Homo sapiens: one gene and its partner. The protein of the gene in region 1 purifies or fractionates together with the protein of each later gene. This does not show direct contact. Each region holds a gene or a part of one and is shown on either strand. Other genes may lie near its edges.

The links.
Region 2: the proteins of FERD3L (region 1) and CORO2A purify together in Homo sapiens (affinity purification with mass spectrometry; one large-scale study listed by BioGRID and IntAct). This does not show direct contact.

The regions. Positions count from the first base shown.
Region 1 is NC_000007.14:19,143,982-19,146,696, forward strand, and holds FERD3L (fer3-like protein), read right to left. Parts: upstream 1,441-2,715; 5' UTR 1,382-1,440; coding exon 881-1,381; 3' UTR 801-880; downstream 1-800. UniProt on the Homo sapiens protein: Transcription factor that binds to the E-box and functions as inhibitor of transcription. DNA binding requires dimerization with an E protein. Inhibits transcription activation by ASCL1/MASH1 by sequestering E proteins.
Region 2 is NC_000009.12:98,189,769-98,194,054, forward strand, and holds the start of CORO2A (coronin-2A), read right to left. Parts: upstream 2,870-4,286; 5' UTR 2,791-2,869; intron 1-2,790.

The DNA of each region.
Region 1 (2,715 bases):
CTGGGGCCTGAAGAAGGCACTGGAACACGGAAGCTGATGCTGCACTTTAGATGCAAAGCGTAGATTTGCACTCTGGCTAAGGCACTGAATGAACACCACTGTGGCCCTGGGACAAGGAGCTGTGGTCCGTCTGGGATCAACTAGGTGGCGAAGGGGAGGGAGAAAGGAAGAGAGAGGGCTTGCGCGCGGGAGAGAGGAAGGGACGGGAGGGAGAGGGAATGGAAGACAGGAAGGGTGTCCCTTCTCAGAGGTCGCACTTTGTCAGCAGTTCCTCTCGACTGCTCTGCCTTCCATTTTTCCTTTCCTCAGTTCCTGGACAAGCCTCGGAGGACCAGGCAGAACCCTCTGGCTAGCAGAAAAGCTCGCACCCCCGCACCCTTGCGGCGTCTGCTTCAGACCCTCCACGCAGGCGCCCGCTGGAGCGCCTGCTGGGGATGGCGTACCACCGACCCTTCAGGCTTTTTAAAAACGTAAGAATTTCTACTTTATTATCTCTATGAAAAAAAAAATGTAAAGAAGAGAGGTTAGATTTTATAGAAGCTCCAAAGTCTGCCATTTGCGAGGAGGGTTCACTTCCCACCCACCCAGCCCACGGAAGCTCTTAGGAGCAGCCTGAACGGCCCCGACTCAGCCTCACGCTCTCTGACTTCCCCGCTCGCCCCTGACCCCGACTTCACTTAGGGCGGTCGCGTAGATATGAACTCTACAGCAGCCACTCTGCTCAGCGCATGTGGGGATCTTACAATCTCGACCCCGACCTCCAGAAGACCAGACGTTCTGTCTTGGGGCCTCCCTCCCGGCCCTTTAGCCTCACCCAGTGCCCGGTCCTGACACACCCCAGCACTACCAGACGAGGAAGGGCAGACTCTCCACACCAGGCTCAGCCGCTTTCCTTCTTCTCACAGCTCTCCAAGAGCTCGGTCATGAAGGAGATATAGACGATGGCCAGGCGGAGGGTCTCGATCCGGGACAGCCTTTTCTCGTAAGCAAACGTGGGCACCTTCCTCCGCAGCTGGTCAAAGGCCTCGTTGAGGTTGAACATCCGCTTCCTTTCGCGGATGTTGGCGGCCTGGCGCTGGGCGTAGGTGATCACCCTTTTCCTCTTGGGGCGGCCTAATAGGGAGACACCTCTTCCGCGCTCCTCTTCCTCCTCCTCTTCTCCGTCCCCCTGGTCCACTTCGCACTCCTCTTCTTCTGGGTCCCCCTCTTCAAACCGCGCCATCCTCCTGGGTCTTCCCTCTCGGAGCGCAAGGGCTGGGTCCCCCAAGGAGACCCCGGGTGCGAAGTCGCAGAGGAGAGGGCGTCTCGGGGAGGCCAGGGACAGGTCTGCGACGAAGTCCAGCACCGTAGTGTCCACGCAGCTCTCCGGATAGGCCGCCATCGCTTCGGCTTGGCCCTGCCTCTCATCGGTTTTCCGCAGGGAGGGGCGAGGTTGCTGGTGGGGATTCTTAACAGCCTTGAATCTGATGGGGCACCATCACCGAAAGGCCAGGGAACATTAAATATTTATAACCAAGCTGATAACAGGATTAGTCGCACCGATAAGGAATGCTCTGACAACGTCCCTTCTCTCGAAGCTTATGGAAGATGACAAGCTTGAGCACGCATGGAAGACTCAAAGGGACAGGGCTCCAGTTCTGAGATCCTTTTCTCTGCGCCACCCGGGACAGTTCCTTGTTGGCAACAACCCCCAGCTCTTACCTGCTGTGCTTTTTGTGTCTGTCTTCACCCCTGCAGCCAACTAATGTTCTCCAGGCTCCTTATCTCGTGTAGTTCTTTAATTTCGTGTTGGATTTTCAAAGCGAGGATGTTTTCCACCGCGATGGCTTCTCCTTGACTTCAGGGTAGGAGTCTTGAATCTTGCCACCATCTGCCAATGGATGTGGAGCAAGTGCATGTGCTTTTAATGATGTCCTGAAGAGGGGCCCTGCCTGCCTGGCATCAAGGGGAGCTGTTTGTCTGGTATCCCAGTGCAGCGGCTGCTGAAAGGCAAGACCTTCAATTAGCTTAAGTAAGCATGGCAGGGGGACCGAGAGTGCATTCCCCAGAGTCGCTGTTGGAACCGGCTTTCTTTTCTTTCCAGGGCATCGCAAACAGCTCTCCTGCCACGTTACAAACCCTGACTTCTAAAGTCTGTTTGGATGCAATCAGCGTAACAATTGAGATACTTGACTTTCCTTTCCCTACCTTTACCTCCTACTCATATAAAATAGAGGATTTTATTCCAAGAGGAAAAGTTATGATGGCAATAAAATGAGAAATTTAAGCTCAGGATATTTTCTATGCTCGGGCTTTGCTGTATACTTTTCAGTGTGGGGGACAAAGCAAACTCTCCTCACAAACAAAACCACTTCAAGCTCTTTTCAGAAATGCGATTTGCCCTTGATAAGCCAAAGAGTCAATCAGCTCACCCTCTGCTGAGGAGTCTTCGGACTTTTAAATTGCGGATCGAGTATTTGTTCCCGAACAAAGAAAAAAACCTAACACTTCCATCTGGCGTATTTTCCTCATTGATTTGTATTGTCCTACAGTAAGACTTAAGTGCAGAAACAATGATTTATTGAAATATATTTAAGGGAGTTTTTGGCTATCGTTAGATCGTTATTTTTGAGAAAAGAAAGAGATTTTAAATTTGGCATAAGAAAAATAAGAGATTACTCATTTTATATTATCTCGAGTATCCCAAATATTTTAACAAAAAGGTTCTTTTTCTTT
Region 2 (4,286 bases), on another chromosome or scaffold:
CCAGACTCCGGTAATGTAAGCTTCAGTGCCACTATTTTTTAAGCTGTATTTGTCAAATGAAATGTTTATTAAGCCTCAGATAAAACTGAACACTTCTTCACTAGACGGCAACTCCTTTATTTTTTTTTTTTTTTGAGATGGAGTCTCGCTCTGTCGCCCAGGCTGGAGTGCAGTGGCACAATCTCGGCTCACTGCCACCTCTGCCTCCCGGGTTCAAGTGATTCTCCTGCCTCAGCCTCCCGAGTAGCTGGGATTACAGGCATGTGCCACCACACCCAGCTAATTTTTATATTTTTAGTACAGACAGGATTTCATCATGTTGCCCAGGCTGGTCTCAAACTCTAGACCTCAGGTGATCCGCCCACCTTGGCCTCCTAAAGTGCTAGGATTACAGGCATGAGCCACTGTGCCTGGCCAGAAGACAACTTCTTACAAATAACAGCACTACATATGTCTCTCTCCCTAGTTACTTCCTTAGGATAAAGTCCCCAAAGTAGCCGGCTAAGGGCAAAGGGCAAATATGATCATTTTCATGATAACAGGCTGCCAGGTTGCTCTGCAAAATTAAATGCCACAGGCGAATCCCTATAGCCTTGCCAGCACAGAGTTTCATCTTTTTATTTTTATTTTTGCTAATTTTACAGGAATAAATACAGACTGCTTTCATTTATTATATGTTATGTGTTTTTTTGGAGAAAAAAAGGCACTCCAATCTTGGAATCAGGATCCCTGGGCTCGGTTGCTGGTTTGCTGTGTGACCTTTGCCCAGTCACATCCCCTCTGGCGACAGGGGATGCCTATCTGTAAAATGAGGGGGTTGAATGAGACGACGTCTGAAGGCTCCTTTCAGCTCAGACATTCCATGATTCCATGGTGCATTTAAAAAGTATTAGCAATTAAAGTCATAGCATGACTTTTTAATAACCAGAATCTGCCATGCTCCTAAATCAGGCCAAAAAGGCTTGAATTAGGCAAGCAGGAAAACAGGGCCCAGATTATACATGTGTCGAGATGACAGGAGACCCAGGTAGCACTTAAGCCTGTGCGTCGGAGCTGGGCTCATGGGCCAGCACATATACTTTGCCTGCTTTTACGAGGGGATAATAACACTCATTTGTGGTCCAGCTCCCAGTCCTGTGCAGCTCCACCATGGCCGCAGGGCAAGGTCATAGGCACTACTTCAGCCCTAGAATTCCATAGACTTTCAGTCCAAGGTAGCTCACCCCCAGGTTCTGCTTGAATACCTGTGATGACAAAGAGCTCACTACCTGTCCAGGGGCCTCCTGCCCTCTTTTGGCTGTTAAGAAAATCCCTGGGTGCAGGGCAGGTCATGAAGGGGACAAGAAAGACCAGGAGGCTGAGAAGTGATTCCTAGAAACTGCTCCCTCAAACAGGGCAGGCATCAGGGAGGTGGAGAAGAGGCCCCATGGGGCAGGAAAGGCCTGCAGAGGGGCTCCGGCTCTCCTCACTCCGGACCTCTCAGACGGTCCCCAGGAGGGGCAGGAAGCTGGGGAGACACATTCCAGTCCTGATGCACAGGTGGGTTCTGAACAAGCCCCAGGAAAGCGGAGGCCCCACAGCCTGCTCCAGGGCAGACACCTCGGCTCCCTCTTCTTGCCTTGGCTCCCTGGGATCTGATGGGAGAAACTGCTGGGCCTGGGGCTGCTGGGTCTGGAGATGAGCATATTTAAGGGACCTGACCACTGCCCCAGGGTGAGGGAGGAAGGGTCAGAGGTTGTTTGTGTGTCCAGAGCAGGACCAGCAGGAGAGGCAGTGACTGGGTAGCAGATTCCAGCTTGGTTTACAACTAGTGAGATTCCTATCACAAGGAGTGTGCAAGGGGGCAGCAAGACCTTCCAGAGGGGATCTTACAGAGGGGCTGGGCCAGATGCCATAGGTCTTCTTTACCTAGGGAGCCTGGGACCACAGTCCCTCAGACCTGTGCTCTGCCCCATCCCTTAATGCCACGCGGACACAGCACCTTGGCACTGTCACCCCTCTGAGGTCCAGGCGTGGCCGCCAGTCACCCCTTGTCACACCAGCTAGTGTGTGTCACACCTTATCACACACTAGCTCTGGGACACAGAGCTAGGCACCAGCACCTGGCCCGGGTGGGGAAGGGGAAGGAGCTATCCTATACCACTCTCTAAATCGAGGTGCCTACGTGGGGCTGGTCCAGGCAGTCGTGCCGCCAGGAGTCCAGCCACCTCCAACCTAGGGCTCCTCCAGCCCCAGACGAGTAAACCCTCTTGGCGGGCCGGCTGATGCCCCACATGCACGCCCAGGCCGGCTTGGCGGGGACCCGGGGATGCCCCCCACCCCACCGTTTCCTGTACCAGGAAGCTGAGGCCCAGCAGGTAACGCAGCCAAGAGGGGGAGGGTCCCGACAAGAGTCCCATGGAGCACCCGGGCCACAGCAGGGGCCTGTCGGGACCGGCTGGCCGCGCCCAGAGTGAGCTTCCCTCACCGCGGGCAGGAGGGGTGGGCGGTGCAGACAGTGCTCATGAGGGCAGCGAGCCGTCGGGAGCCCGGACCTCGAGGCGGCCCCTCCCAACAACCCCGCGAGAAGGGGGCCACCAATGAGCAAGCTATCCTGACGGGGAAACTGAGGCCTGGAGAGGAGCAGTGCTTTGTGCAAGGTCACGCAAAGGGGCTGAAAGCCAGGTCCCCCGCGCTCCGAGCCCCGCATCCCTCCCTCTCCGGGAGCTGCAGCCGCAGCGCGCACGTCCCGCCCGACGCCCCCATCGCGCAGACCGGGAAGGCACGGCCGGCGGCGCAGGGCCGCCCTACCTTGATGACTGCCGCGCAGGTGGCGGTGGCGGCGGCGGCGTCCAGCTCCGGCTCCGCGCTCCTCGCCGCCCGCCGACTCCCGGCGCCCAGAGCCGCCGCCGCCTCCCCCTGCAGCCCGGCGGGCGGGGCCGGAGGGCGGGGCGGGGGCCTGGCCCAAGGTCCGCCCTTTTGCCCGCCCCGCGGGTCCGCCCTGGCCACCCTTTTCCGCCCCCACGACCCCGACCGCGCTCCTGGCTCCCCGGGGCGGGTCTCGGGGCGCGCACACGTGCTGGGAACAGGCGCGCACACGCCGCAGTGATTGGGGCGGGCTGCCGGCCACCAGGCGGAGGCTGGGGACAGGCAGAGCCGCGGGCCCCACGTCGCGCCGTGCCCTCGCTGCGTGGTGTGGGATGAGGAACCTGACCTCCCGGAGCCTCAGTTTCCCCCGTTGTGAAATGGAGACAGTAACCGCGTCGGCCTCTTAAGGCTGTTTGAGCCCTGGATGTGACGATCCCGGCCGGGTACAGTGCGCGCGCCGAGCCCGGCCAGGGAAGCGCTCCTTTCCCCGAGCAGTTACAGCGGTTACCGAGGCTTCCCCGTCCGCAGGGAGGAGAGGAGCCGGGAGCGCCGCTGGGAACCGAGGAGGACGCCCTTCCTTCTCTCGGGACCAGCCGGGGGCGCTGCTGCCAGCCTCGCTGGCTGGAGAGCCCTGAGGACACTAGACAATGGGGAGGCCCTACCTTTGGGTACCACCCCCACCTAACACTACTGAGCCACGCACTCCTCTAAGCGCCTTCTGTGCATTACCTCGCTTCACTGTCACACAGGCCTATGAGGTTGATACCATTACTCACCTATTTAACACAAAAGAGCTGAGGCACAGAGATATTAAGTACCTAGGTTAAGATCACCCGGCTAGTCATGCAACCCCAGGCAGTATGGCTCCCACGGCTACTAAGCTAACAGCCACTCCACTCCACACCACGTCTGTGAAGAGCTCTTGGTTTTGTTCAGTAGAGACGGGTTATCTTGAGGGCCTTGAACTGCTCCGTGGCACATAGTAACCACTCAATATATAGTTGTGGAGTGGATAACAGAGTACACTGTTACTACTTTACATATCTGTATCGTTTCTTCTAAGCTTCTAATAATAGTGGCTTTATTTAGCCACTATTATTACCTCCATTTTACAGATAAGAAAACTGAGGCTTGGAGTGGCAAGGTACTTAGGGAGCTCTTGATTCTCTCCTTAGAATGTGACTCAGCTTCCATAGTCCACTGTACCACCCCCCTGCCCAGAGCTGGACGGGCTCCCTGCCTACCACCCAAAGCCCAGTGTGCACTATGGTCCTGAAAACCCCATCCTACAGCTCTGATTCAGACCTTCTGGAGCTGGATTGCCCAGCAGGTAGACTGAACGCATGCTTCTGGTGTTAGCGTGCAAGAGTTGGGTATCAAGCATATGGATGGCTGGGCGCAGTGGCTCATGCTTGTAATCCCAGCACTTTGGGAGGCCA